Linked DNA regions of Homo sapiens: regions 1, 2 and 3 are each linked to region 4. The links come from fine-mapping of genetic effects on gene expression. A gene starts in region 4. Each other region holds a variant in brackets. All regions are shown on one strand. Distances are from middle to middle.

Region 1 (7,984 bases), 77 kb before region 4:
TGGATCCAAAAGAACCTATGTGTCAAAACAGAACTCCTTGCTTTCCAGCAGCTTCTCTGAACCTACTATTGCTGAAGAGCCACACAACATATTAGTTTCTCAAAAGGGGTTCAGATAAATGTCAACTGCAGTAAGTGAAAATTGTAATTACAGTTAGCGTGGACTGAGCGAAGTGCTGTGTGGGCAAAGCACTGTGTAAAGTTCTGTATGTAAATAGCACATCACAGATAAAACCTTGCTCTGTGATTATTAAGAACAGGGTGTCTTTTGCTCATTCTTCATTAGAAGGTTGATTAGAATCACTTGCAAATTATATACATCTACCTCTGGGCATGCTTTGCTTCAAAAAAGGAAACCCCAGGAGCTTTTTCTATAAGGGATAGATTTCCAAATATCTTTGAATATTGAAGTTTTTGAAGCTCTCTTTCTTGATTTTCTTTTTCCCACTGATTCCAAGTGTGGAGGAGTCTTTTACCCATTCTTTTAGATGCCACTTTCTTGTAAAATTTAACTGTACCTTAACTTACTGTTTGCACAGGGTGCATCTTTTTACAGCTCCTCCTTATTGATCTCCAGTTTCTCTGTGCTGTATCCCCCACAGGCTCCTTGTCATGCGAGGTTGCAGTCTGATTTTCATCTACTCAGATTAAATTTAATCTTGAAGATATAGTAGAGGACTGGAATGAGGATCTGTGACTATGGGTGGCTTTATTTTCTTCTTTTGACACTTGTTTATTTTCTGTAATGAGCATGGGTAGCTTATGATTAACAAACATTAAATTGGATATTCTTGAAAACAGCAAAAACATTTTTAATGAAATGGCATGCTAATCTCATTAATTTCATTATTTTGTGATAAAGTCTAATGATGAGATGAGAGTTGTAAACTAAGAGACGAGTGGTAATCCTTGGCACCCTTTCTTATTATGCTATTTATTTGACTTGGAGAGTTTTACTTGTCTGTTTTTAGAGAGTATGTTAATTGAGTGCTCAGTATGCATTACGAATAATCTTGTCTGTTTTCTTGTGGAGATTCTGAAGGCCCTTTTGCTCTTTCTGTAAAAGCCAAGCAGACTGTATTAACTTCTGGTTTAATTTGAAAAATGAATGTGGAACTTGTTGGCACAACACCTTAAAGAATTGCATGTTTAATAACTGGAAGGCTTTCCATCAGATTTGTCTCTAGCCTGAATTAATAATGTTGCTGACTTATTGTTATAGAAGACGCAGTCCTTGACCTGCTAGGTTGAAAGAATTGTGACTGCTCTGAACCTTCATGGGTCCTTTAGCTGTGCCATCTCCCTTGTGAATAATTAGAGGTATTTGAAGGTATTGAGGTAGAAGCCAATTTGTGTCTTTCACTTTGCATATTGTTGAAGCCGCATGAATTAATCATAAGCAGGGCAAAAAATTAACTTCTTCAGACACATATTTTGATGGGTCATGAGGGAGAATGTAAAGTGATCTGTAAAATATTCTACTGATCCTCTAAGTATTAAATTATTATACCTACAGGCTAATTTCAGGGGGGGAAAAGAGTTTTCCCTCCCCTTCCTTCAGTACCTGAGTAGCATATTTGAGAAAAAAATCAAGGTTTTTTATTTCCTAGCACTGTAAAAAAGACTGTAAATGAGCAATTTTATGATTTCCTGAAAACCAGATTCTTGTATTAACTCTTGATTTTAATTTTTGGTTTTTTATTTTTTGTTCTTTTTTACTTTTAAATCATTTGAGGTTTTGATTCTTAAAACTTCACCTGAAACTTCTTGTTGATTTGGTAAAATGCATTGTGCGACCCAACAAATAACTCATCTTTTTCACTTTGGGCATCTGAAGCTATTCTGAAATACCGAATCAAAGTCATATGGATTTCCATACTTGTTTAAAATTTAGATTTACATTAAAATCTTTTTTTCCATTTTCTGTTTTTTTTCAGCCAGTGAAACTGAAATTGCATTCTTCTGTGAAGAAGATTATAAGAACTACAAAGCTAATCCCATTTCATCCTGGTGAAAACATCTCGAGGGCTTCCTTTTTGCATACCTGTATTAAGCTCTTTATTCCACTGCTGAATTTTTGAAATTGACAAACAAATCTTAAAAAATTAATCCCAGGCTATACTCTTTGAGCTAAAATCTGGTTATTTCTTTCTCTTCAGGTCTTTCCTTCTCTCTTTCTTTTTCTTTGTTGTTGTAAAATAATATATTATGAGAAAAACATTTGATCTTTTTAAAGGGAAATAAATTGTTATTAAAAATTATTGTGGAATATTGATTCTTAAATTATAATTTGTTTTCTAAAATTAGGAATTATTTTTGTGACTTGCATGTAGAGCTCCTTAAAAAGATTCTAAGACTAAGATCATACTGTTTATTGTATATTTTTTCTGTAGTTTCTAATTAGAGCAACTGTTTCTGTCTGTGGCTACCAGAAATTCTGAGTTTCTTGACCTTCATGGCTACCTTTTAGTTCAGGGTGTGTGATACATACCACCATATGTGCAATTGAATTGTGTATATTTTAGGGAGGTTTTATGATGTAGGAAGGTTACTTTTTTTTTTTTTTTAAAGTATTGCAGCCTATACAAATAATGTTGCTGATTTTTTTTTTTCTTTTCTTTCTTGAGCTGTGTTTTCCATCTTCAGGAAGAAACTATCATAGAATCAAACTCATTTATTTGGAGAGAGGAAGCGGCAGGATGCTTGCACTTCTGGAAGAAAATTGTTCATTGAGAACAAGTCTATGTCCTGGAAGATACATTCCTTCTAAATAATATAATACTTGTGGTTCCTGATTATGGCTGACCGCCAGCACCTGTGGAGTCCTTATTTCAGAGGCCTTTCAGTCAGGCTGCATTTAATCAGAACTCCTGGAGAGCTTAGCTAGCTCTGCCATTGCTCCCTGAGTCCTGGAGAGCTTAGCCAGCTCTGCCATTGCTCCCTGAGTGCCGGAGAGCTTAGCCAGCTCTGCCATTGCTCCCTGAGTGCCGGAGGGCTTAGCCGGCTCTGCCATTGCTCCTTGAGTCCTCAGAGTTGCCAGGAGGGCAAATTGGTTTCATTATGGTCACGTCTAACTTAAGAAAACCTATGATTTCTTAACAAATCAACTTTGAAACTCTGATTAACATGATTAGAAGATGCCTTGCTTTGTTGAAAAAGTTAATAGGGTCTTCTTTAAGATAAATTCTACTTATTTTATTCATTGTTTCATTCAGGAGCAAAGTGTTGAATACACAGATGATGTAGTTTTGGGGGAGTTAATAAAGAGGAAAATAAGACCCAGTTTTTGCCTCAGTGAATGGAGAAAGACATAGTACAAGCAAATGATTTTAAGAATAGCAGAAAAAGCTGCCATCAGAGCATTGTTGACAGAAATTAGTTGTGTGTGTGTGTGTGTGTGTGTGTGTGTTTTTAAGAAGTACCAGTTGAGCTGTGTCTTAGAAGATTGAATGGGAATTTTTGCTTAGAAGAAAAGAAGGGAAAGGCTTTCTGGAAGAGGGAATAGCATACACAAAGGCAAAGGACTGTGAAAGAGCTTGAGGTTTCAGGAGAAAGCGCAAATTTTAGTGTCCCTGACTTTTATAGATGGTGCAACTTAATGATGTTTCGACCTTATAGTGGTATGAAAGCAGTAGGCATTCAGTAGAAACACTGAGTAC[C/T]CATACAGCCATTATGTTTTCCACTTTCAGTGCAGTATTCAATAAATTACATGAAATATTTAATACTTTACAATAAAATCAGCTTTGTGGTAGATGATTTTGCCCAACTCTAGGCTAATGTAAATGTTCTGAGCATATGTAAGGTAGATTAAGCTAATGCAATGTTTGATAGGTTAGGTGTATTAAATGCATTTTTCACTTAGATAATATTTTCAACCAACAATGAGTTTATTGGGACTAACCCCATTGTAAGTTGAGGAGCATCTATACAGGAGTGTAAAGTACATGGAACAGAGTAGAGGAAGATAAGGCCAGAAAGGTAGGTTGAGGTAGGCCTTACAAGTCATGCTAAGGAGTTAGAACGGTATCTAGTAGGTAGATGGGAGCCAGTAGCATGATTTAAACAGGTATTTGATTCCATTTATATTTTAGAAAGTGAGCTTTGTCAGCAATGTCCAGGTGGCAGAAAGACTAGAAGACATCATTGAGCAGGTGAAGTTTGGAAGGCCTGGCCTAGGGCAGGGGCCGAGGGGAAGAGGAGGATTGGGGAGGTTCTTGGTGTTACCATGTGATCGTGCGTTCCGTGGCAAATATGGTGTGGTAGTTAATTTACATATGTTATCTCATTTGACTTTTACCACAGTTCTTCAATGGTAGCATGTATATTTATAGATGAAGAAATTGGGGCCCAGAGAGGTAAAGTTATTTGCTCAAGAGAATGCAGTCATGTGCAATGGGATTGGAACCAAATCTGTCTTAAAATCCTGACTTCCCCCATTCCATCCTGCAGCCTCCCAGTGGAGACCTGAGGTAGAATGACCTTAGAATGTTTGGGACCTGGTGAATGCCTGGACGGGGATAGTGTGGGGAGGAAGGAATGGAGACTTCAGTGATTCTTGCTGGAGTTGAGTGGCTGGATTAATGATGGCAGCAGTAATCCAAATAGGGAACTCAATAAGTAGAGGTTAAAACATATTCCATTTGTTTGCTTTGCACGCATTCAATTTGCATACCAGGCTTTTTTAAAATATAAAATTAAGCATATCTTTACCTGTGCATTTTTAAGTAGATAATGCAAAAATATGTATGTATAGTACCTTTTTTGGTATGTATTTTTCTTATAAAAGGTACATATAGAGTATTTTCACTTATAAATACAGAAAAAAAATCAAAAATAAATGTATCAACAGCAACCACCAGAAACTAGAAGAGGCAAAGAAGGATTGTTCCCTAGAGCCTGCAGAGGGAGCAGAGCCCTGCTGACACCTGGATTTCAGACTTGTAGCCTCCACAGCTATGAGAAAAGACATTTCTGTTGTGTTTACAATAAATAAAAATGTATTGTGACTAAAAAGGACTTTTACCAGGAATGGAAGATTGATTCAAAATTAGAAAATCTCTCAATATACTTTTCAAAATCTATATAGGAGAAAAAATATTATGTTTATCTCAATAGATGCCAAAAGGCATTTGATGATATTCTTGCTCATGCATATATAAAAATTAGCAAGGGAAAGAAATACCCTTAACTTGATGAAGTTTGCTCATAGAAAACCTACTTAATGGAGAAGTGTTTCAGCAAATCTATTAGATATGAATAAGAGGCTGCGGCTGGGTGCATTGGCTTAGGCCTGTAATCTCAGCCCTTTGGGAGGCTGAGGCGGGAAGATTGCTTGAGCTCAGGAGTTCGAGACCAGCCTGGGCAACAGGATGAAACCCCGTCTCTACAAGAAAAAAAAAAAAATTAGCTGGGTGTGGTAATTTGCCCCTGTAGTTCCAGTTACTTGGGAGGCGGAGGTGGGAGGATCCCTTGGGTCCAGGAGGTCAAGGCTGCAGTGAGCTGTGATTGCACCACTGCACTCCAGCACAAAAAATATGAATTAGACAAGAATGAACACTATTGCCAGTACTATTCAGTATGTTTCTGCAAGTCTTATTGTAGCCAGTAGGAAAAATAGTAAGATTCTCAGATATTGGAAAGGAGTAGGCAAAACATTCATTTGTAGACAATATGATTGCAAGAAGATTAAGTTTTTTTTGAACTAAGAGACTTGAGTGCTGAACCTAAAATGTATTGTTCACAAAAGCTATAAAATAGTGTTATTAGATGAGTATAAAAGACCTGAATAGAGATAGATTACATGTTTATAGATGGAAGATACCTACCTAATCCATAAATAAATGCAGTCTCAATCAAAATCCCAAAGGATTTATCATGGAACTTGACAAATTGATTTTTAAATTCATTTGGAAGAAGAATATGCAAGAATAGCCAAGATCAATTTGGAAAAACAAAACGTAGGCTAGAAGAAAGGGTGGTTGCCTACTAGATGTCAAAATAGATTCAGTGATCAAAACAAGTTGGTAATGATACAGAACTAGATAAAATGATCAATGGAATAGAATATGGAAACTAATAAAATTTACATGGAAACAATAGCTAATAAAGGTAGTATTTGTAATTATGAGGAAAAGGAAGATTATTTAGCACATGGCCAAGTATTTAAAAAAAACAGTTAAGGGTCCTACTTCATACCATTCACTAAAATTTCAGATGGGTTAAATAACTAAACATGAAAAACAAGATGATGAGTTTATTAGAAGAAAAAATGGATTATATTTGTGACCTTGGGGTAGAGAAGGCCTTCTGAAAACACAAAAGGCGTATGCCATAATTTCATAAGGAGAATGTATTTGTGTTAAGAATGACTAAAAGCAAGCCAGGTGTGGTGATGCATGCCTATAGTTTCAGCTACTCAGGAGGCTGAGGGGGGCGGATTGCTTGAGCCTAGGAGTTTGACACCAGCCTGGGCAACATAGTGAGACCCTGTCTCATAAAAAATGAATTAGTAAAAACAAAACCAAAACATGTATAGAAATCAAAAGAAGCAGAAAAAATCCATCAGGCAATTGCCATGAACATTTTGACATATTTCCATCTAGGTTATTTTTTCTATGTCTATTTTTTAGAGTTTCTGAGCTTTTTCATGTGTTTTAAGTCACATTTGCTTGTTAAAACAACCAATTCTGGTCCAGGCATGGTGGCTCACACCTGTAATCCCAGCACTTTGGGAGGCCGAGGCCAGTGATCATTTGAGCTCACGAGTTTGAGTCCAGCCTGGGCAACATGGTGAAACCACATCTCTACAAAAATTAGCTGGGCATGGTAGTGCATGCCTGTAGCCCCAGCTACTGAGGAGGCTGAGGAGGGAGGATGGCTTGAACCTGGGAGGCAGAGGTTACAGTGAGCTGAGATCACACCACTGCACTCCAGCCTGGGCTATAGAGCCAGACCTTGTCTCAAAACAACAACAACAAAATTCTGAAGATTAAAAAAAAGTAAAAATCCTCTTCTTGCAAGGTCACTCCTTTGCATAGCTTGGTGAGCATACTTTCAGACCTTTTTTTCTTTTTTTGCACATATGTTATTTAAACATATAGGTATGCATTTTAAAGCATTGTCATGTTATGCATTTCAAAGCATGATCACTCTCTTAAAGATGGTTGAGAAGTCTCATTTTTTAAAAAATCACCATTGTGTGTCAGACACTGTATGTATTTTATATTATCTCATTTAATCCACACAGTAGACTGTGCTAGAGCTCTGAGGAGTCCTGGTTTCCCCATCTGTGAGATGGAGGAGATAATAAGGGCCACTTTGCAGAGTTTTGTGATCAAGTGGGACATTGCCTACAAGGCACTTACGGACAGAGCCTAGCAGGAAGTGAGCACTTATTACATGTCTTCGGGTACTTATTGTGAGAGTGAGTGCAGCAGCAGCAACTTCATTTTGGAGCAAGGAACCCTCACCCTCAGAGATTAAGCCACTTGTCCAAGGCCTAAGATCTGATAAGTCAAAGAGCAGGTCTCTTCTGGCTTCAAATCCTACTTTCTGCCACTCTTTGAAAACAAAGGGAGTTGGGCACTAGGAGAAACATGGTAGAAAGGTGGTCAACCACAGCCAAGAGACAGTTCCCCATCTGCATTGTTGGCGCCCCTTTACAGGCATTTTTCTATTCTCCTTTGAAGAGAACTTGCCTTTGCCAAAGGAACACTTGGGCCCTGGTCCCACGAGTTGGGCCAGGTTTCATGTGACTTTGAGGAACTTCTTTGCCGTAGCAAACGGGTTTTCTTTTCCTTCTTTTTCTGCCTGCCCCAGACACAGGCAGGAGAGATGGTGAAGTTCCTGCCTATTTGGACACCCAGAGAACTGGCCTGGCCTGAGCCCCTTTGGAAACCTTCTGCTGATTGCTGGGGACAAGGGGGAAGAGCAGGGGCTTCCCCATTTCTGCTAATGCATATTGGGGCATCGTGGGCCTGAGTGTC
Region 2 (7,186 bases), 45 kb before region 4:
AAACCAACCTTTGGCTTTGTCAATCCTCTCTATTATATTTTTGTTTCCTAGTTCACTAATTTCTACTCTTACATTCAGTATATCTTTCTGTGTGTATCTATCTTTTACTTTCTGTGGGTTGGATTCTTTTTGTACTGATTTTCATCAAGGTTATTGATTTCCTTCCAAGCAGTATTTTTGCTGCATCTCTAAATATTTGATATGAAGATATTTAATAATCATTCACATTTAAAAATTTTGAAGAATTTTCAGTGTAATTTTCTCTTTGATTAATGACTTATTTAGAAATGTGTATTTAAAGCTTTAAAATGTATAGACATTTAAAATATAGCATTTTAGGCCAGGCATGGTGGCTCATGCCTGTAATCCCAGCATTTTGGAAGGCCAAGGCAGGAGGATTACTTGAAGCCAGGAGTTTGAGACAAGCCTGGGCAACATAGCAAGATCTCATCTCTAAAAAATAAGTATTAAAAATTAGCTGAGCACACTGGTGTGTGCCTGTAGTCCCAACTACTCAGGAGGCTGAGGCAGGAGGATTGCTTAAGCCCAGGAGTTTGAGGCTGCAATGAGCTGTGATCGTTGTGTCACTGTACTCCAGCCTGGTGACAAAGTGAGACCCTGTCTCTAAAATATAAATATATATATATGATATATATGTGTGTGTACACATATATGTATACATACATACATATATATGTATGTATACATATATATGATATGTATGTATACATATATATACACACATATATATAGCATTTTGTTCTTGATTTCTAACTTTCTTGCACTCACTTGAGAGAATGCCGATACTTATTATTTGAAATTTATTGAAATTTGCTTTATGGTATAATATGTTTTCAATTTGTTTTCTTGAGAAAAATATAATTTTTCTATTTCGTATTATATCCAACTTGTGTTGTTATACACACATACATGTGCACACATGCATATAATTGTCTGTTTGTTATAATCTCTTAGTATAATGAGGGATTTGTTCACATTTCTTTCTTTTTTTTTTTTTGCTTTACATATTTTGAGGCTATATTATTAAAAGCACATTATTCTAAAATATTTAAATCTTTATTTTATTATTATGTAGTAATTCTCTGTATTCCTAATAATGTCTTTTCTCATAAAATATGCTTTATATGATAATAATCTAGCCACTCCAATGTTAATTTAGTTTGATTTTGCCTAACTTACTTTTTTCCATGTCTTTACCTTGAGTCTTTAGGTATGCCACTTATAAATATAACTAAAATCCAATCTGACCATCTCTATCTTTCAACTGAAGTGTTTAATCCATTTGTATTTATTGTGATTATTGCAGGAGGACAAGTCCTTGAATGACCTTGGCTGATTCAGCTCTCCCTGCTCCTTCTTACAATTCTTGGGCAGAATGTACTGAGAATGTAACATCCTGGGATAAGGAAGAACCATCTAGAACAGCCTGGGCTTTGTCTTTGTTCCTCTCAGAACAAGGTGCTCTGCAATGCTTAAGCTCAGTGATTTAAGTACCTGTAGGGTATAAAATCCAGAGTGGACTGCTTTCAGGGTCCCTCAGCTGTAGTGTGAAGTTGGGCATATGCAGATGGGATTCCGTCTGCCCTGGGCAGCTTGCTTGAGTTCTGGGGGACCAGCTCCCCACGGATTCTATGCTTCTATCTTTGCTACATATCTGTGAGTAATAAGTCGGCTTTGCCTGACTTGTGCAGGTGTTTTGTCATACCAGACTCAGACTCCGGCAGCTGGGTTTGTGCAAAACCTTTAGAAGCTGTGTTTGTGTAAAGACTCCTGCCAGACCTGGGCATCCACCAGATACAGGAATCTTTACAAAAATTGGCAAAGTGTTTAGAGTCCTCTCCTGGTATCCAACATATGGTGTGCCCCTCATAAGGATTGATACCAGTGCATGGTATTCTGTTTCACAATTATGAATATATGTGGATTTTTTCTAATACCTACTTTTTGTTTTCTGTGTCTTGCTTTACCTATGCTATTTTTCTTGTTTCTTGTTTTTCAAAAATCCAATTAAAATTTTTTTCCCTTCCTAAGGATTTTGGCATTATACTTTTAGCTTTTTATGGTTACCCTTGACATTTTTCTAGATGTACTTAACAAGATCTAAATTAGCCCATAACTTTCCCAACCCCAACCTCTAAACAAATATGAGCCTCAGAACATTTTAACTCAATCCCTTATTTACATATCATTGTTTTTAGCCAGTTAGTATGTCTTTTTTTTTTTTTTGAGATGGAGTTTCACTCTTGTTTCCCAGGCCAAAGTGCAATGGCACTATCTCGGCTCACCACAACCTCCGCCTCCCAGGTTGAAGCAATTCTCCTGCCTCAGCCTCTTGAGTAGCTGGGATTATAGGCATGTGCCACCACGCCCAGCTAATTTTGTATTTTTAGTAGAGGTGGGGTTTCTCCATGCTGGTCAGGCTGGTCTCCAACTCCCGACCTCAGGTGACCCACCTGTCTTGGCCTCCCAAAGTGTTGGGATTACAGGCGTGAGCCACCGTGCCCAGCCTAGTATGTCCTTTAAAAAAAAACACTTACATAGATATTCTTCTTCTATAGAGAAAAGGTTTGCTTAGATTTACCTTGAGGGTCACCACTTATTCACTCACTGTTTCTTCTTGTTTTCAGATTCCCCTCTGGGATCATTTTCTTTCTATCTGAAGTATATTTTTAGAAGTTCTTCAGAAAAGAACTGTTGGTAAGCTCTCAATTTCTGTAATCTGAAACATTCTTATTTTGCACTCAATCTTGAAAGTCAGTTTTGCTTGATTTAAAATTCTAAGTTGGCAATCACTTCCCCCTGAACTTTTAAGATATTAGACTACTATTTTCTAATCTCCATTGATATTGTTAAGAAGTCTGTTGTAATTCCACAATTGTAGGTCATTTATAATTTTTCTCGACTGCTTTTAAGAGCTGCTTAGTGTGGCTAACTGTAGCTTTACTTTTAAATTTGCTTTCCTGCCTGATGGTATACATTGCACTTTCAGCATTTTTGGATACCAGTAATTCACTAGTTTTAGAAAATTCTTGGTCTTTATCTCTTTAAAATTTGCCTCTTCACCATTCTTTCCTTTTGGAACTCCAGCTATTTGTATGTTATAGTTGTTCATTTTAACCTTTATCTCTGTTAATGACTTTTTTATATTTTCTATCCATTTGTCTCTCTTTTGCATTCTGGGTAATTTTTTTAGCTTTTAAAATTCACGATTTTCTCCAATCTGCTGTTAAACTCACCAAATTAAGTTTGTTTCTGACAATTTTTTATTTCTGAAAATTCCATTTTTCATCATGCCTGTGCCTTTATAGTATATTATTGCTTATTTATTTTTTGCAACTCTATTTTTTAATTCTTTAGATACTTAATATATCATTATCGTATGTTTGACGATTCTGTTCTTCGAAGTCCTTCAGGTTTTGTTTCTACTGAGTCTCACCTATGGTTTATTAATTGTAAATATTAAGCTTCTTATTTGGTTGATCTGAACTGAGGTTGCTTTTCTTCAGAAAGGACTTGCATTTGCTTCTGCCAGGAGCCAAGGAGAGCTTTTTTTTGTTTGTTTGTTTTTGATTTTTGTGTGTGTTCCCATTTATTTTCTGTCCTGATGATTTCCCTTACTTCCTGCAAATTCAGTATTGCCTTAAAAAGTATGTCTTTTGTTTAGGAACTAATTGTGTTTTAAGCAGGAAGACCCTTCAGGAAGTTAAAAGCCCACATGAATTCTTTAGTTGCAGAAGTTTTAAATGTTGGCTAAAATTAGATTTTTAAGAATAGACTCTTCATATATGAGAATTATAGATATAAGTTAGGTTTCTGGTCCAATAAATGCAATCAACCCTCAATAAGCAAGAGTGTTGATTATTCACTTTATGGGAGGATTGGCAATGGAAGTTTTTGGTTGCCTAGTGCATCAAAGTTCCATTTGTGACTGTTCATTTCTGAATAGAGAAAACAAAAATGAAGCCAAGGCATTTCTGAGTGACTATTAGAGATGACACTGAACTAAGACAAACTACCTAGAATTATTAAAGAAACTGGTGAGGGAAAATGGAATTTAACTAAACAAAAATCTACTTTGCACACTTCCCAGGAAACACAATTTGGTATATTTCACTCTGGATAAAAAATGGTTATAATCAAATTTTGTTTTTGTTTTTTAAACCCTATCAGTTTTTCTGGTCTGCTCCCTTTACATTTTCTCCAACAATTATTTTCAGCCATTTTGTCCCTCTTCAGCCCTCAGAGCCAAACCTTCCTCCTCCCCTGTTCTCAGCAGAAGGGATTGACTGTTTTTTTAAAAAGAACAGACAACATCAGAAGGGAACTGTCACATGCTGTGTCATCACAACTAGCCCCTCCCCTCAATACTCAGCCACTTCTTTTCCCCTTCTCTCCTAGTTGTAAAGGACAATCTCCTCCTCTAAAGCCACCTGTACTCTGCACTCCATCTCTTCCCATGTCCTCCAGGACTTTGTGATTCTCTATCATTCTCTCTCTCATCTTCCATCATTCCTTTTCACCTTGTTTATTCCCCAGAAGCATTTAAAACATGTTTAGGTCAGAACCATGGAAAAAAATAACCAGCCCTCCTTCAACCCCCACATACCCCTCCCATTACCCATCCTTTCTCTTTCCCTTGCTTTACAGCCAAATCTCAGAAGAGTTGTCCAGTATTACTGTCTCCATTTCCTTCTTATTCATACTCAATCTGGATTTTACCCTCAACATCCTACTGAAATTCTCACCATTAGGTTTCCATGTTTCCAAATCTAGTTGACATTTATTGGTCTTCACCCTATGTGATTTCTTCATAGCATTCAACACAATTTCAAACACTCACAG[T/C]GGACACAGTACACACACACACACACACACACACACACACACGCACTTTTATCTTAAAATGTCAGCTACAAATGAGCCAACAATGTTTAGTTGAATATACTGTATTTAAAAACCAATTTATTTATTGTAAGGCTATTAATATAATAATTATTCATTATTAATGTTATATATGTATTAGTGTAAATTATTTCTACTTTATGTTTCAATTTAGACCTTACACTGATTTTAAAAATTATATGCATAGGTAGGTTATATTATTTCTGAATTTCATTTCAGAAATTAGTAAAGAGATTTTCAGAAGACTTGTTAGAAGAAGTCAGTGATTGTGGATGGGACTGAGAATTTCTGCTTTAGTGGAGCCAACTCTCTCTTGGTTGAGACCAGGGAAGTGGCCCAGCACAAGAGAGCTTCTGCACTCCAAGAGCTAGCTTCATTGCTTTTGGAAAAGATTCAACGTGTCAAACAGCTAAATGATAACTTTCTCTCCTGAACTGATATGCGTGATTTTGGTGGTTCCTTAGTTCTTACATGGGCTACCTTGGTAGGGGGTATTTTTCATCTATTTGATTACTTCTTTGTAAAGTTAACTCTCTCAGCTTTATGCATGGGAGGACACAGAGGAGAAAAGTAAACCTCCAAGGACAAGATGCTTTTCACCTTGAAAATTGTTTGTCATGAATGTATTTACTGGCCATGGTTCTTTCTTTGGAAAATCCTTATAATGAACTCAAAATGGCAGGGCTGTATTTTGGTTATTGTTCCCAAGAAATGGTTTTTAGCCACTAGACCACTTTCTGCACTGGGTTTCTTGCCCCCTTGCCCTGTACCATAAGGCAGTCTGGTTGCTTCAGCAGGAAGGCTCGGCTGCATGGTAGTTGGGTGGTCTCTGAAGAGAGCTCCTTTTGTTTTCCTGATGGACCCAGGGCCAATGTGCCGCAGCCCTCGTGAAGCACAAAGTGCAAGGCTGTGGCTCCAAGATGGAGTGTTTCTCCCTCTGCCTTTAAGAGAACACGGGGGTCATAGATAGCATTGTACAGACGTGTACCTTGCCAGGGCTGCCAGGGGAATGCAGGCTCATGGGGAGGATTGAGGGGACAGAGATGTGTGTGTACAGATTAGTGTGCCATAGACTAAGCACAGCAGAGGCAAAGAATGCCATCTAAGCTCTTGTCGCTCGGAGTGTCCGAGGATCATCACCATACAGGTCACCCAGGAGCTTATTAGAAATGCACAGTCTCATGCCTCACCCCAGACCACAAATCAGAACCCGCATTCGAACCACATTCCTAGGTGACTCCCAGGCACATTATAATTCAAGAAGCTCTGCTGCTTTTACCTGCACCGAGGCCTCAGCCTTCAGACCACTCCAGGAAGCCACCTTTTCACATCCCCACACCCCCACCCGACACTCTGTCACCTGGATCTTGCCCATTTCCTCCCTGGCATGTCCCTTAGTCCCTTAGGTCTGCACATCTGCCCTTCCTCATTGGCCAGCTCTAGCACAGATCACTGTGTTCACCTTGGCAGTCCCAAGTCCTTGCACACTGCCTGCCTGAGAGCAGGCTCCAAGCTGAAGGCTTCTCGAGTCAGTGGACGAATGGATACGTGATCTACATGGCAGAAATAAAAGCCTGAAGTTTGCAGAAGGTTAGGTGTTTATTTGCACTGCTTTTATACTGTCTACCAGGTTAAAAAAAAAAAACAGAGACTCTTTTGAAGGCATAGATTTTAGATATCAACCTCAGACTGTGGCATTTGGGATTTCCAGAGCATGTCGTTGAGGCACTTTTGTACCCAGAGGCACATGGAATTTACCAGGCTGTGGAGATGATGTGCTCTCGGGATGCTGCTGCCAGTAGCCTGGTGAGGTAGGGAAGACAGCAGTGGACGCACAGTCAGGGCCCAGTACACAGCCCGCCTGCCTTTCGTGTGATTGTCCAGCAGGTGGCACCTGTTCCCTCCTGCCACCCACCTTATAATTGCTTCCCTCTTGAGCACCTTCAGCCAGAGGTGGGTGGGAAGGGGAGGACGTGCACTGGGTTCTGCTATGTGCCAGCATCTTTGGTATAAGGAGCCATTCCCTGGCCCAGGGCAGGCAGCCAGTACCCACCGGGGTTGGGGATCATTGGTGGGTCTCCATTGCCCATGCTCTCCCTGCCTCTCATTAGTAGGGAATCGATGGGCCCTTGTTATGCCAAGGCAATGCTAAAATCTCTGCTTTACCTGCCCCCTTCTCAGCAAGGCTCTCTGTGGGCCACAGCTGATGCTCCATCAGTGCCAATTTATGAGACAAGTTTCTGCCGCTCAGCCTTGGCACAGCAGA
Region 3 (7,984 bases), 98 kb before region 4:
TTTTTTTTTTTTTTTTTTGAGACAGTCTTGCTCTGTCGCCCAGGCTGGAGTACAATGGCAAGATCTCGGCTCACCGCAACCGCTGCCTCCTGGGTTCAAGCGATTCTCATGTCTCAGCCTCCTGAGTAGCTGGGAATACAGGCACCCGCCACCACGCCTGGCTAATTTTTGTATTTTTAGTAGAGATGGGGTTTCACTATGTTGGTCAGGCTGGTCTCGAACTCTTGACCTCAGGTGGCCCAACCGCCTCGGCCTCCCAAAGTGCTGGGATTGCAGGTGTGTCTTTTTTTAATTTTTATTTTTGTAGAGACAGGGTCTCGCTATGTTGTCCAGGCTGGTCTTGAACTCCCGGACTTAAGCGATCCTCCTGCCTTGAACTCCCAAAGTGCTGGGATTCCAGGTGTGAGCCCCTGCACTCGGCCACCAATTTCTTAGAAAGCTAAACATATACCTATTGTATGATCCAGCCATTCCACTTCTAGGTGGAATGACAGTATGTGCCTGTGAGAATGAAAGTAATTTCCTCCATGTGAATGTTCCCAGCTTTATTTGTAATAGCGCAAGATTAAAAATGACCTTTAGCATAAAGAACATGTTTGTTTTTTTCCAGTTCCTTTGCAGGCATCTTTATATGTATTTTGGTTAAAGCTCTTATCTCACTGGAGTGTGTCTAATGTCTAATCTGTCTTTCTGCCACTGTGGAAGGTAACTGCTTTAGTTCCCACCCTTCTCAGTGCTGCAGGAGGGGAGTCGAGAGGGCAGGGTTCTGGTCCCAGCTCTTGACACCTTGGGCTGACCAGGCACTTCTTGAGACCTCAGTGTTCTCCACTGGCAACTGTAGGCATTAAATTATATGTATTCTTTCATGAATATTTTGAGCACATGCTGTGTACCAGGCACTATTTTAGGTTCTGACAACACAATGAAGAAAACAGGCTGTGGTCCCTGCCCTCATGGAAGCAGTTTGTGATAATTTGTTATGGGCCGGACATGGTCCTAGGTTTTGAGAGGACAGCCCACGTTTTCATCCCGAGGAATTTATAAATTCATAGGAAATAGTGACAAAAATAAGTTAAAAGACAAAACTATAATTGTAAAACCTGTTATGAAGGAAACAATATCAGAGAAGACCCCCGCTTTAGAAGGGTTGTCAGAGGAGATGGCACTTCAGTTAAGATGTAAAGGCAGGAAGAGAATAGGTGCTCGCTGTGTCCTGGTCGTTGTCTCTTCTCTCAGAAGTCTGGATTGAACATAAGACTGATTTGATTTCTTCAGTCGTAGACATCTCTAAATGATAATAGCTTCATGGGGCCATCTGTTCTTCACCTCACGGCTTTCTTCAGGGAGTTTCATTGTCTAATTCAGGAAATATAAATGTCAATACATTAAATGGAATTAATTCTCCTTTCTGATGTTGAATGAATACTGCTTTGGCCCATAATTCACAAATAATGGAGACACAAGAAGAATAAAATGAAGTACATATGCTCTGGTAAGCCTAAGCCAGAGGTTTCAAATTGGTATCTGGCAGGCAAATCCTGCCTCCAGAGAGGTTTCTTTTGGCCTATAGTGTTTTAAAAGTCAAGAAATTTCACCTAAAACCCTAGACTTGTAGCATTGCCATTTAAATCTTTAGGTGTGGCCACTCCAGGCTCATGTTCCTACAGCACTGTGATCAGTCAGCACTGACTGGCAGAGCCCCCTTTGATGGGCGCATGCTCTCAGATCTCACTGCCCCTCCTTGTTTGACCTGCTTCACTTACCTGTTGTCACCTGTCTGGCCTCTGGGTGAATTTGAGTACGAATCATCTCAGGGTTTTTTTTGTTTTGTTTTGTTTTGTTTTGTGTTTAAATATCTCTGCCTGGGACCAGCCTACCGTGAGTCAGATCCACTCGTGCCAGGCTGGGTGATCCTGACGTGCAGCCGGGGTGAGGACCACACTCCTAGGACCATAGCACTGGCTGGAAACGTACTTTTGTTACAGCATTCACCACTGGAGCACACGCTGTCATGAGTGGGCAGCTCCTCTTTTACTCTGTTCCTGGAATACCTGGTAGTAGGTGCTTTAAATGCTTGTAACATAAATTAATCAATTATATTTTAATTTGATACGTATTTGATCTTGAAAAAGCATTTTAAAAAAACCCACATTTCCTGACCAGGTGTAGTGGCTCATGCCTGTAATCCCAGCACTTTCGGGGCGAGGTGAGAGGATTGCTTGAGCCCAGGAATTTTAGATCAGCCTGGGCAACCTAGTGAAACCTGTCTATTAAAAAAAAAAAAAATGCCGGGACTATGGGCATGGTGCTGAGCGCCTGTAGTCCCAGCTACTTGGGAGGCTGAGGTGGGAGGATCGCTTGGGCCCAGGAGGTCAAGGCTACTGTGAGTATAATCACATCCCTGCACTCTAGCCTGGGCAACAGAGCAAGACCCTGTCTCAAAAACCTTCACATTTCCTAATTTAGATACGTGGATATTTTTTGTTTGTTTTACTTTTCTTTAGTAGGTAACACATTCATGTGGTTTTAAGATCAAAATGTGGAAAGGAATATAGTGAAAAGTCTCCTTTACCCTTCTGGTCTCTGTCTGACCAGTGCAGCACCCCCCTGCCCTCCCCACCCCCCACTCAGCAAGTACAAGCAAATCCCACCATAAATTCTCATTTTACCCCCTTTTTACTCAAAAGGTAGCTTCCTAAAAATAATGTTCTCTCATATCTCTTTAGCCTTGATGTAACTTGAAGATCTTATCATGTTAGTAGAGAGCTTCCTTCTTTTTCTTTTAACAGTTGAAAAGTATTTTTCATTGTTTGGGCATATTATGATTTACTTAACGAGTACCTAATTGAAGGACATTTGGACTTTTCCTAACATTTGCTGCTGTGAGCAATGCTGCAGTTAATACCCTTCTATGAATGTCATTTTACACACACTCGTGTGTAGTATAGTTCTATGATAATAAATTTCCGGCTGGGCATAGTAGCTCATGCCTGTAATCCCAGCACTTTGGGAGGCCAAGGTGGGCAGATTGCTTAAGTTCAGGAGTTTGAGACCAGCCTGGGCAACATGACAAAACCCCATCTCCACAAAAAAATACAAAAAATTGCTGGGTGCGGTGGCATGCACCTGTAATCCCAGCTACTTGGGGGGTTGATGCAGGGGGATCACTTGAGTCTGGGAGGTCGAGGCTGCAGTGAGCCATGTTTGTTCCACTACACTCCAGTCTGGGCAGCAAAATGAGACCCTGTGTCAATCAGTTAATCAATAAATTCGTTCATTCACTCATTGATTCTGAAGTGGAATGGCTAGGTCAAGGAGTATGTGCATATGTAATTTTGAGATATATATATATATACACATATATACACACATTTCTCTGTTAGGTGTTGTACCAGCAGATATTAATTAAAATTAGTACTGGCATTTGGAATATGTTTTTAAAAGAATATTTACTGTGTTTTGTTGTCTTTGAGGAGTTAGAGGAGTTATTTTGTTGGTTATATGAATTTTGGTGGAGTAATAAGATTGTTCTAGATCATTGGTTTCCACTAATGGCCAAAGACCCATAAGGGGCTCTCAGATTCATATGCTAAACAAACATCAGCTATATATATATATATATGTCTCACACAAGTGTATTAGTATATATTTTAACTATACATAGATACTGTTGTCTAATGAAATTAAACATTCTTTTAATAGTGTTACTGAAGTCTTAGTTCAGATAGTAACAACTCAACATCTTGTCAATAGCTCTAATATTTTAGATGGTGATATGCTTTGGCCGTATCCCTACCCAAATCTCATCTTGCATTGTAGCTCCCATAATCCCCACCTGTCAGGGGAGGGACCTGGTGGGAGAGAATTGAATCATGGGGGTGGGTTTTTCCCATGCTGTTCTTACGGTAGTGAATAAGTGTCGTGAGATCTGATGGTTTTATAAAGGGCAGTTCCCATGCACAGACCCTCTTGCCTGGCGCCATGTTAGATGTGCCTTTGCTCCTCTTTCACCTGCCATGATTGTGAGGCCTCCCCAGTCCATTAAACATTTTTTTTAATAGATTACCTAGTCTTGGGTATTTCTTTATAGTGGTATGAGAATGGACTAATATAGATGGCCCTTGGATTTC[G/T]GTGATGTATTTATTCTGTGTTCTGTCAGGTTTTTCAAGGTAACTTAGTCTGTAGATAGAAAAGAATAGAACCAAAAGACTGTGCATATTCTATGAGTGTCTATTTGCTTATTGTGTAAAAAAATAATCTTTCTCTTGTAGATATCCCTTTAAGGACCAACCTGCCACCACCATTCAGAAATTATAAATATGGTAACCATTTTTTTATTCTTTTAAAATATATATAAATACAATTTTGCATTAGTTTGTTACAAACTTAAATTTTGTTTTCAAAAATGACTATCTGTAAATAAAAACCAATTTGGAAGTTTATTTAGAAATACAGGAATGCTAGTATATTGCTGAAATGAATTGTAATAGTAAGGAAGTGGCGTATTTGCAAAGAGTAGCATGTTTGCCAAAACTGTGTTTAAAACGAGTTTCTCTGCCAGGTAATTAGAAAAGGAAAAATGATTGAAGACTAAGAATTAAAAGAAGGGATTTAACATTTTAAATGCCAATAATTTGAGCATGTTATATAGTAGTTTTATGTGTTACAATTGATGATTTAAAAATGGAGTAATAAGGTAAGAAGCTAGATGTTGTCATTCATTATTTGTTATAAAGATGGCACAGTTATTAACCTTCAGCAGAGTGACACTCACCAAACTTTGAATTTGAGACTTCATTTGAAAGGTATGATGCACCTAATAAATATTTCTCTTAATTGGTGCAGACATTTTAAAGTATAAATTTTTTATTACCTTAGATTTTTTTTTGGAGTGGCTTTTCATTCTGTTCTCATTTGATAGAACAACTTATGACCTAAAATCCTTTGAAATCACAATCTTCGCCGTGTGTATGCATTTTAATATCCAGAAACTAATTGTGAGGTTATAAGGGGTAGTGAAGCAGAAGTTGAAGGCACTGAGTGGAAAGTACTTTGATTTATTGGGCTTAAAGAATTTACATACTCAATATTGAATAAGATAAAGGAATAAAAAGGATGATTAAGGTAAATATGAAACTTCTCAATTGTGGCTTTCAAGGCTTTCAAAGTATAATGTCTTGAAATATAGCCTTAAACTTGAATCAACTTACAGATGCCATTTTAAATTAGAATAGTTACATATGGTTTCCTTTTTTCATGGTGTGTGTGTATGTGTGTATCTATATGTCTATGTGCAAAGCTGTGTTCCATGTAAGTTCTTTTGAAAGAAATTTTAGATAATGAAAGCGTTAGAATATCCAAGTTGCTAAGCATTATTGTGGTAGATAATGTACCTTTTAGACTATTCTATCTTATTAACTTCCTTCTGCCCTAGTATTTCTATACTATTCAGATGAATTGGCAGAAAAAATGAATACATTTATTTGTGAAGAAATTATAGAACCACTCGAGTTTTGATAGACTTCAAGTGGCTTTGTCTGAACTTGGCTGTTTAACAATCTTCTGCTTTCTGTTGAACAAGAAAGGCTGCAGTGTTATTTTCACCTGTCATTGTCATCCGGGACTGCCACCTCACGGTCTGCGGGACAGGGCACTTTGTTAGGTATTCGGGAGTGGAAAGAGTGTGGAGTCAGATTTCAGTTTTGCCAGTCACTGTCTCCCTACCCTTTGGCAAAGGGCTGATTCTCTCTGCCACCAAGAGCCTGAGATATCTCAGAGCCCTCCTCCCATTTAATTGGCATCCACATCTATTATTGATTTACCACGCATGCTACTTATCTTAAATCCCTATCGCCTAGACATGACCCATGAGGGCACACAAGAATGTAGTTGTTGTACAGTGTGGGCTGCTCATCCCTCTCTGTTTCATAAAGCTGTGTGTGATGCTCCACAAATACAAGATGATATTTTTATGAGGTTGCTTTCCTCAAGGAATTTGTATTAAGAAAACAATGCCCACAGGTATTGTTTGTGATAATTATGAGGATTATTTGAAAGAAGCAAGAACAAGGGAAGCAGCTTATTCAACACAGAAAGGGACAGTAATACATCTCTCTGCTGGTTTGTCATTTCTCCTTTCTTACCCACTCCTCAGGTCACACCCCTTTCTGTTGGAGAGAAAAATCTGGCAAAAACTTCTCTTCAAAACATTTCTTTTTCTGCTAAAATATGTAGCCGTTTAATTGTGTGTTTGCCAAACCTATTAGAGCAGCAGGATTTCTAGTTTAAAGGCTCATTAGCAAAATATATAGAACAGGATTAATATTTAGTAAGGTCAGACTATAGTTTTGCAGGTTGATTGCAACAGACTTTGAGCTCCTGTTATTTTAAAAATACTATTGGCTTCTCTCACTTGTCTCAAATAATAAACATATCTATAGTAAGAAAAAGGACATGATAGGTAATTTGGAATACTAGATAAGCTGAAAGTCAACTTTGTTTATTTTCTTACACACATTTTAAGCTTATTTTTAGCAATTATGGTTTATTTACATCCCTAATATGCATATTTTACTTAGGTTAGATTTATTTTTATTTCTTAGGAATACAGAGTTACTGAGGATTATGTTGACCTTGTATAAAAAATTACAAGGCCAGATGCAGTGGATCATGCCTGTAATCCCAGCACTTTGGAAGCTGAGGAGGGCAGATCACCTGAGGTCAGGAGTTCGAGACCTAGCCAACATGGTGAAACCCTGTCTTTACTAAAAATGCAAAAATTAGCTAGGTGTGGTGGTGGGAGCCTGTAATCCCAGCTGCTCGGGAGGCTGAGGCAGGCGAATTGCTTGAACTTGGGAGGTGGAGCTTGTAGTGAGCTGAGATCATGCTGCTGTACTGCAGCCAAGGCGACAGAGCAAGACTCCGTCTCAAAAAAAAAAAAAAATTGCAATAGATAACTGAAAGTTGACTATTTAAAATAATGGGCAAATTCAGAGTGCTAGTTCTTATCTAGATAGCCACCTTATTGTGTATTATGAGAACATAGTTAAATAAGGTCTGTTTTAAAAATAGATCCTTTCATTTCCTGTCACTGTTGGAATTCCTTGTTACAACGTGATTGATAGGAATGAGTTTTAGTTTAAGTTTGGGAGTTTATTCAATAATACACTGTAATCATAATGCATTCATTAAATGTTTAAATAAAAACGAGTGAAGAATCGGAAACTTTCTGAATTTCAACCTGTTGAATGGCTGTGTAGATTATGTAATTAAGGGCTGATTGTTGCTGAGTTCGAATTTTACCCAAGTGTGGAGAAATTACTTACTGGAAGTGCACAGTGTAGCCTGACTTCAAGATAAACAAATTAAGGAGTGAAGTTGGGTTTGAATAGAGCAGATGAAATGGTGTGAGCCTGTGCAGTATTTGCAAACCAAGAGACAGATAGTGATATTCCTGGGGCATTAGCAGCCTTGCTCAGATTCCCGGTGGTCCTAGATACAGTGTTTGAATACTGAGAGTGGCAACACCTGTATCATCATTTGCTCTCTTGTCATTATATCTCATCTGAATAGATTTTTTTGAACTGCATTTGCTAATGTCTATTTTAAGACTTTTTTTTTTACATTATTTGCTAATCCTGTTCTGTATTGACTCCAAAAAAACAAGGTACAGTAATCTGATTTGCTTGTCTTCCATTCTAAGAAAAAATGTGCTGAGTTGACAAAAAGTTCTGACACACACACTGCTGTGTGTCAAAGACCAAGGCTTTAAAAGATAAAGATCTTTTACTTCAGTTTTAATGATCTACAGAAGTAATTTTTCTTTTGCTGTATAGTATATTTCTAAATGAGTCTGGTTATAAAACAAGGACTTACATTTCTCAATTTCGTAGCCACCCTCCACCCATTTTAATAATTTGAAAAGAAGTTTAGAATAAACTGTGTAAAAAGATAACTTGCTTTTTTCTTTCAGATGCACTAAAGA
Region 4 (7,984 bases):
GATTCTGTCTCCAAAAAATAAATAAATAAATAAATAAATAAATAAATACAAGAAATGGGAAGCTTGTTCCCTCACAGACCCCAGCATGCTGGCTTTGGGAGCCCTGCTGTCTACACATGAACCAAGACAGCTGACACCACAAAATAAAGCTTAGTGGGCCCATTCACCGACCCCAAATCTCTTTATATGTACCGAAGTCGGCTTTATAATCTTGGGGCAGTATTTTTTTAACGTGTTTAATAACAAGGCTTAAACATGTGATCTTTGCTGAACTCCCACCTGGCTCTCATTAAGCAGAAGGCAGAGATGGAGTAAGTCACAGCCTGATTGCGGAACAATCAGTGCTCACTTGTTGCCCACGCTGCCCGGTAACTGTGGGCATGCAGAAGACAGACTGACTGGGAAGAGTTGAGTATCGAACAATTCTCCGGTGACAGTGTTCTTACGGTGCTGAAGCAATGAACGCCTGGCCCATTCAGTGCAGGGCTCACGAGACCAGGCCACACCTGAAGAGGAACACACTCTGCCCCTGGGTTGAAGTGACAACGCAAGAGTTTGTGATCCACAAGCAGTCGCCCATCAGCCCTGATGGCAGGCACAGTGGTTGATCCCTCCAGCTCAGTGGGTGAGGGGAGCGGGTGTCTTTGGTTTTGCATCCTTGCTCACTCACATGAGCTATAGGTCCTGAGCCTTACTGCCACCGTGTCTCCTCACTCAGATTCGCAAGTACGCAGAGGGCACGGGTGTTTGTGGGGTGGTTGATGACAACAACACTCATCCTGCCAGAAGTGGGACTCAGCTGGTCTTAGAGTGCCTGGCTCAAAGTTAGTGCTCGGTAAGTGTTTGTTGAATGAATAACCGATGAGGCAGAATTTGGACAGGAGAATGTGGCAGTTAGTTAGTGGCTAGGAGTCTCAGGTTAGGGGTGGAAAAAAAGAGGTTGGGGTCCATATGGAGTTGGAAAGTCACATGGTTGGGAGAATAACATTATCGACCTCCTAAGAGTCTCCAGGTACAAATGAGCTCCTGTAGATAAAGTGTTTGGCCCGGATGCTGGCACATGGGAGGCTGAATGTCAGTGATGAGGACTGGCATTTCAGGCAGGATGGTGAGGGTGTGTGGCATGCCAAGGATGTGACGGTTGGAGCACAAAGAGGCCCGGGACCTGTGGGAGGCTGTGTTGGACAGGTGGGTGGACCCAGCTGCAGGAGACAGATGGGAGGAAGAGGGACTTCTGTAGCCCAATGTTTGAAAACCATCTAGTCTCCAACCCCGATCCCTGCCCCTCTCCTCTCCAAGTTCTGTAATCTCCACAGCCTCTCAAATTGGGATGGTTTGGCAGGGGTGGGGTAGGAGCAGAAAAAAGCACACACCCTTCCAACTCCTAGAGGGAGGAAAGGCACCAACTTGGCCTTAGGTTTTAATAACTACTTAAACTGGTAAACATCCTCATTTTAAATCAAGAGGCAACTCCCTGGTCTAGATGCTAGAAAGCAGTTTCATAGTGCTCAACCTGCTCAGCTCAGGAAGACCTGGCCACTACGCACCGTGGGTGGACAGGAAAGAGTGGATCCAGCCTCAGCTGGAAGACCAGAGAGCCCGACTCCCCAAATGACCTGCTTCCTTCCCTTGCCCCAGCCTGCCTGAATCTCACCCCAGCCCTCTCAGTTGTTCATTTGTAGCTGGACAGGGAATGTAGCAGGCAGCGTAGACCGCCAGGCTGGGAGGCATCAGCTGAGACTGAGCTGGGAACCCTGGGACTTGGAGCCAAGGCCAGCTCTGCCACAGAGCACGGAACCTGGAGGCCACTCTCTAGGCCTCAGTTGCCTTCTCTAGGAAAGCTAGTGGTTCGGTCTACAAGAGCACTAGGCCTGGAAGGCCCCTCACTGGTTAACTCGCAAACCTGAGGTGAAGAAGGAGGGATCCGATATTTACTGCACTCCTAAAACTCAGCACTTCACACACTTAGTCCCCCAAATAGGCATACTTGTTTTATGAGGATATCCTGTTTGAAGCCCTTGGCAAGGTTTTGCAAATAAACAGAGGTTCAGAGAGCTGAGGGCTTCATGTTACGGGGTAAGGAGCTGAGATTTGGACTCGTCCATCTGACTCCAAAGCCAGACTATCCCCAGCACTCAGCCAGCGACCTTTTGCCCACTCAGCTCTCAGGTGTGCGCCTTTGGACTTCACTCAAGAACTTTCACTTTTTAACCACCTGAAGCCCTGCCCAGCACCTTGGTCTCTGATAAGTCCAAGAAGGGAAGGGCTGTGGGCCAAGGATAGGAGATATGAATGGGAGAGGAATCTACCTGTTTGACATCTCTAGGCTGGAGAGGGAACATGTGTGATCCCAGCTTGACCTGGCCTGGTCCTGGGGACCTCAGCAAACCTGGGGCAGGCTGTTCAACCCCCAGGTGGACAAGTGGCCCAGCCTGAGCTCCCTGCTGGCTCTGAGGCCAGCATTAGACTGTGTCACTTCCATACCTGCTGCCGGATTGCCTGGCTGAGGCCACCTGCTCCATTTAAGCCCCCTTCAGGACACTAGTGACACCATCTACCCCACCCCGCCCACTTACCCATTAGACATTCACTAAGCACCTGCTCCTTGCCAGCCCCTCTGCAGGCCACCAGGGACAGAGATGAGTAAGACATAGTCTGGGTCCTCCAGGTGCCCCTAGCTGATTCAGTCAGCTTCGGATGGGACTTGGGGATCTATATTTTTAACAAGCCTTGCAGGTGACTGAGAGGACACACCCAGGTGAGACCCTTTGGTTTTGTGGACCTTCTGGCTCTCAGCACTGTATTCTTGGGGCTGCCAGAATCCCCGTGAGGACACAGCCTGTTTCGCCCCAGTGGTAGGTTCCTCTGGGCTCCAAGTCAGATAACTCTGGGTTCAAATTCTACTTCTGCAACTTCCTAGCTGTGTATCCTTGCAAAATACGTGGACTCTCTGAGGCTGTTTCCCCATTTTTAACAAGAGATAATGGTGCCTTCCTGTTGTGAGGATTAACTGGGATATTGTGCTCAAAGCCCTTAGCAAGATGCCTGGCACACATAAATGGGAATATCTGCTGTTAATTATATTATGGCTGCACTCTGATGGACAGAAATACCTCCCTGGGGGCATTTCCAGAATCCCCACTTCTGGAGCCCATCTCTGAGGTGGCCCTGGATATTTGGGAGGCCTCTCTGTGCCCTCTGCCAGGGCTCCAGCGGGACCTTCCTGCTTCTCCCCACGGATCCGGCTTTCTGGTCCCCAAACCGCATATTATCTGGGCACACCCTCCCCTTCATTTACCCAGAGTGACCAAAGTTCCAACCACACCTCTCCGGGCAGCCTGTCCCCAAATTTCGGGGAAGTGGGCAGGAGGGGGAGCTTTGCCGGGCAGGAGGGGGAACTTTGCCAGGCAAGGGCTCCGCGGGCAGAGGCGGGCACTGGTGAGGCCAGCCTCCTCCTGGGGACCAAGGTCGGGCGCCCCTGCCCAGCCCCTGCACCTGCCCCTGTCCCTGCCCTGTTCGGCTGCGAAGGGACTGGGAGGTCTGGCGAGGAAGAGCCTGGAAGATCCCCGCCCACAGCTACCAGCCCTCCTTTGGGACCGCTGGCCAGAGCCCCAGCCGTGGGGCACACGGGACCTGTGGACTCAGCCGGGGTCATCCGGAGGGGCGCCCACATCTGCACCCGGGGCTCCGGAGCCTGCTCCCCGCCACTGTCGCCGCCGGCCCTGCCTAACCTGCGCGGCGCAAGCGGCTTCCACGCCTAGGGAAGGAAGGCACACGGGGTGGGGGCCCCGGAACCCGGTTTCTCTGCCGCCGGGCGCACGTGGCTCGGTCCCAGGGGACAGAAGTCGCCTCCAGACGTGTGGCGGCACCCGAGGTCCGCGCAGCGACGGCGCAGGGTGCAACCGGGCGGGCGTCTCGGGGACCGGGCGCAGCACGCAGCCCCGCGGAGACCGGGGGAGGGTACACTCACCTCTGCGGCCCGCCGCTCGGAGCGACCGCGGCAGCTGAAGGTCCGCGGCGAAGGCGGTGGCTCGGCCCGAGGCTCCTCCTCCCCCGCGCCCCACCCGCCCGGGAGGGCCGGACCTGCAGGGGAGGTGGCCGCCCTCCAGCCCGCCGCAGCTTATCCGGCTCGGCCACCTCCCCCGGGGCCGCAATCAGGAGCCGCCGGGTCCTCGCTCCCCGCCCAGCCCTGCACAGCCCCGGCAGCGGTGGCAGCGTCCAACCACCCTCCTCCCCTGGCCCCAGGCGGGAGGTCGCCAGCCGGCGCCAACACTTCCTGATTTGCAGTGCCCGGCACACGGCTGAAGTGAGCAGAACTCCGGGACCTCCTCTTAACCCGGCCACGGAGGGCACCGAGGCCAGGGTGACCTCTAGGCCCCCCTCTCTTAACCTGAGGAGCACCTCGAATCCTTGTCCATTTTATAACCGAGGCCAAGTGGCAGCCACGGTTGCAGGTGGGAAGAGACCAGGGCTCCAGATTGGGTCCGGATCCCTTCCCTCTCAACAAGGTTGCGCCCAGGCCTTTGTGGTCCCCCCCCAATCTCTGTCCCTTGTCCACCCTTAGGGCAGACTTTTGACCCTTCCCAGCAGTCCTCAGGTTCCAAGACCGGTGGGATGGCGGGTACCTTTCTCCCGGAGCTGCCTCCCTGTCTAGGCCTTCTGGGCTCTGAAACCCTACCCGTCCCCCCTTCCCCCTGGGGCACTGCCCGCTGCCCTCCGCACTTCCAATGCCGATGGCTTCACAGCACTGCAGCGAAGCAGGGCGTAAGTAAGGGGAGGCTGTCTGTGGGCACCTCTCTAGAGGTGTGCGCCCTGGTCCGAAGCCCCTTCTCACCTGTGGTCACATTTGCCGGCTGCAGTTATTTTCTTTACAGGTGAGGAGACCCGGGCTTTTCCGCTCAGATTCGTGGAGGCTGAGTGGGGGTTCCTGACCCCTGGTACTCTTTCTAGAGTATTCCTGGGAGACATACACTATTAGCCTCTGATAAGGAGCTTCAGGTTATTTTTAGGAAGTCTAAGAATCCTGTTTTCTGGGGAGCCAGCCTCTGTTGGGGAGATAAGCCTCCGGAGGCCAGAGGCAGGAGCTGGGCCTCAAGGAAGGCCCCACAACTGGACCCCAAAGGGCACGGTGGGGAGGAAGAGGCAGAGCTCTGGTCTCCCTGTGGAGGGAGTGCTGCTGTAAAGCGCCTTTCCCTCCACCCCCAACTCCCGCCGAGAACCCCCCCACCCCCGCAGGCAGTTTGCTTTCCCCCTCCACAGCTTTCCTCCTACCCGAATACCCACCTCCCAGCTCTCTGCTCAGCCAGGGCCCAAGGCCAGAGCCTCTCTTCTCTTGCAAGAACTTTCCTGTCCCACCTTGCCCCAGGGCAACACCTCTTATGGCAATTCTTACAGGTCCTTTATCCATTCAACACTCACAGTGCCCCAGGTGCCAGACAGTGCTCCCAGTGCTGGAGACACACGTGCCCAATGGAGGTTCCTGCCCTTAGGGTGCCAGGGCTGGTGAGTGGCCCCTGCAGTGGGTTGTAAACTTTGAGAAGACAAGACCCAGTTCCTAGCCCCCTCTGGTGCCCCTAATATGCTCCCCCTGCAGTAGCTGTTCTTTTGATGCCTGCTCCTGCTGATGGGGATGGCTGAATAGCCTTCCTTTAATGCCCAAGGACAGCACAAGGAAACCGAGCTTGGGAAATGCAAACACTGAGAGGTCTTCCAGCATCTTTGGAAGAATCCCTGGGAACCAGTGTCTTTTTGTGGGGCTCTCCATGCATGAGTAAGAGAGAGGAAGACTTTTTTTTGAGGCGGGGAAGCGGGGCTCTCCATGAGTAAGAGAGACAGGGGGAGACATTTTGAAGGCTGGGCTGCCAGAGGTCTATAGAGGATTATCTTAAAAGGAACATGAACTCCTGCTGGAAAAAGTAGAGGGGTCTGAAATTTCTCACAGACAGGGAGGGAGGTGAATACCCTACTTGGGCCCACACACTTTGGCAGAGAGGCCACCGCCCACGCCGTTGACCTTTGGTGCTTGTTCTGTCCACTGACCGTTGGACTAAGGGGGCCTTGAGTGTGAGCTTGTCTCACCTGGCATGGGGTCAGGTGTTTCCAGAAGCTTGAGAGCCAAATTTCCCAAAGCAGACGAGCCCTTTCCTACTCCAGGGAGGAGTGCAATGTGCTGAGCTTTGTTGAGCACCTTCTATGGGCCAGACTCTGGTGTCCTCTGCCAAGGATAGAACAGTCAGAGCCATCCTTGCAAGATGTTTGCCAGATCGCATTTCTCCTCTGCTCAAAACTCTACCCCCTCCCCCAGCAAAAGTAAAGTCCTTGCAATAGCCGTGGCCCAGTGTGATTGGCCTTCTCTCTGCCCTCATCCTCTGTCTCCCTCTCTCTGCTCACATTCAGTCCCACCTCAGATGAATCTGACAGGATCCTGACCCCTGCCGTTCCCCTTGCCTGGACCCTAGGCATCCCCAGGTACCCTCCCTACCTCCTCCAAGTCTTGGCTGAAAGGTCATCATTTCTGTGAGGCCCACGCTGATCGCCCCCATTCCTCATCCATGTACCTGCTTGCTTTCTTTTTTTCCCCATAGCCTGTATTACCTCTGAACACACTATAAAATAGAGTTTTTTGGACTGTTTTTCAGTAACTGTCTTCTCCCATAGAAATGTGAGCTCCTCCTGGGCAGGGATTTTTATGTTTTATTCAATTCCGTATCTCTAATGGATAGAGCACTGCCTGGCTCATAGTAGGTGCTCAGTAAATACCTGTTGCATGAATGCACACCCGTCCTCACACTTCCTTGCCTCTTTTAGCATCTCAGAAATGTCCCCACAGCTCCTGCCTACTCTGCTCTCCTTTTTATGCCCCCAGCTGGTGTGATGCTGATTCAGAGGGGTGCTCCACTTATGCACTTAGGGATGTCTGCCCCTGGAGTTGCTGAATATTCAATTTACAGAGCCCCTGGGATTGCCCTTTTTCCTTGAAGACAAGGTTAGCTGTTTGGCTAAGAAGAGAATAGCATCCAGGAGAAAATCTAGATTTATTTCTTATTTGATCAGGAAGGAGAGGGATGTTGCTCACCCTCAGCTTCTTGGATTAATCCAGCATTTATAGGATGGGACAGAGCAGGTCCACTTCACAAAATAAATCCTCCATGAAAACGAGATGGCCACGGGAAGCTGTATGCCCCAATGTACTCTGACACCCTAGCCAGAAGCCAGGCCACTTGGATCTGGTCCTGCCCAGTGGGCCGTGGCTGCAGGAAAGGTGCCGCTCCCCACTGATGCTCTCCCCACTAGACCAGGTGCTGCAGGACTCCTCCAAGTTCTGGAGCACAGGAAGCTCTTTCCTATGTAAGGCTGCATTCAGGGCAAATGGAGGCATTGTCTTTGCCATCACAATGACCTGATGGGTGGAGGCACATCAGCAGCAGTCAGAGCTGAGGCAGGGCAGGTAGTGGGAGAGGGCACTGAGCGGGGAGGCCAGCTGACAAAGGGGTGCTGGAGCCTGGGACTGAACCTCACAGATTCTGCTTTCCATGGCCCATGATGGTGACCCAATATTGTACAGCATTATAAAGTGTGGCTTACAGGGCATTAGGACACCCCCCCCTCCACATACACACACGAAATGTCCCTGCACCCCAGAATTTGGAATTCTACTGGAGCATAAGGTTGTCCTCCTTCCAGTCTTCTCTCGAAACATGAGCCCTCCAGAGAGGAAGCACTGTCTGAGCTCTGTGTCATGAGAATCTGTGTATCTGCAGGGAGATGTAACTGTGGCCAGCGCAAGAGTATGGAGTAGCTTCCAAAGGAAGTTGCTTTTTATTTGTTTATTTTGGCTCAAGGGAGCATTGATAAAGGCAGTTGCTGAAGGAAGAGTGGATAAAAGATGCCAGGGTGGAGGGTGGGTGGGGGAGCAGGACCAACCATCTTTCTGAGGGAGCTTCCTGGCGCGTAGTAGGTACTTAAACTTTTGTGTATGATCAAC

Evidence for each region.
Region 1: its variant is fine-mapped to the expression of STEAP3 in whole blood (TOPMed, PIP 0.95).
Region 2: its variant is fine-mapped to the expression of STEAP3 in whole blood (TOPMed, PIP above 0.99).
Region 3: its variant is fine-mapped to the expression of STEAP3 in whole blood (TOPMed, PIP 0.97).

Annotation. Positions count from the first base shown.
Region 1 is chr2:119,296,501-119,304,484 of GRCh38, reverse strand. It overlaps C2orf76 (chromosome 2 open reading frame 76), which reads left to right. Exons shown (of 6, transcript NM_001322331.2): 6 at 1,937-2,260. The coding sequence ends at 2,013. Among named protein-coding and RNA genes, the nearest start is that of STEAP3-AS1, 51 kb to the right of the region's middle. The variant C/T (reference allele first, on the strand shown) is at 3,659.
Region 2 is chr2:119,264,967-119,272,152 of GRCh38, reverse strand. STEAP3 (STEAP3 metalloreductase) reads right to left here. Exons shown (of 6, transcript NM_182915.3): 6 at 6,501-7,186. LOC105373581 (a long non-coding RNA gene) reads left to right here and starts at 1,147. Exons shown (of 2, transcript XR_001739666.3): 1 at 1,147-1,479; 2 at 2,649-6,528. RefSeq lists a silencer at 6,730-6,829. The variant T/C (reference allele first, on the strand shown) is at 4,864.
Region 3 is chr2:119,317,492-119,325,475 of GRCh38, reverse strand. It overlaps C2orf76 (chromosome 2 open reading frame 76), which reads left to right. Exons shown (of 6, transcript NM_001322331.2): 3 at 4,272-4,322; 4 at 7,973-7,984. Among named protein-coding and RNA genes, the nearest start is that of C2orf76, 45 kb to the left of the region's middle. The variant G/T (reference allele first, on the strand shown) is at 4,131.
Region 4 is chr2:119,219,875-119,227,858 of GRCh38, reverse strand. It overlaps STEAP3 (STEAP3 metalloreductase), which reads right to left and starts at 4,025. Exons shown (of 6, transcript NM_182915.3): 1 at 3,971-4,025. RefSeq lists silencers at 3,373-3,442, 3,503-4,282.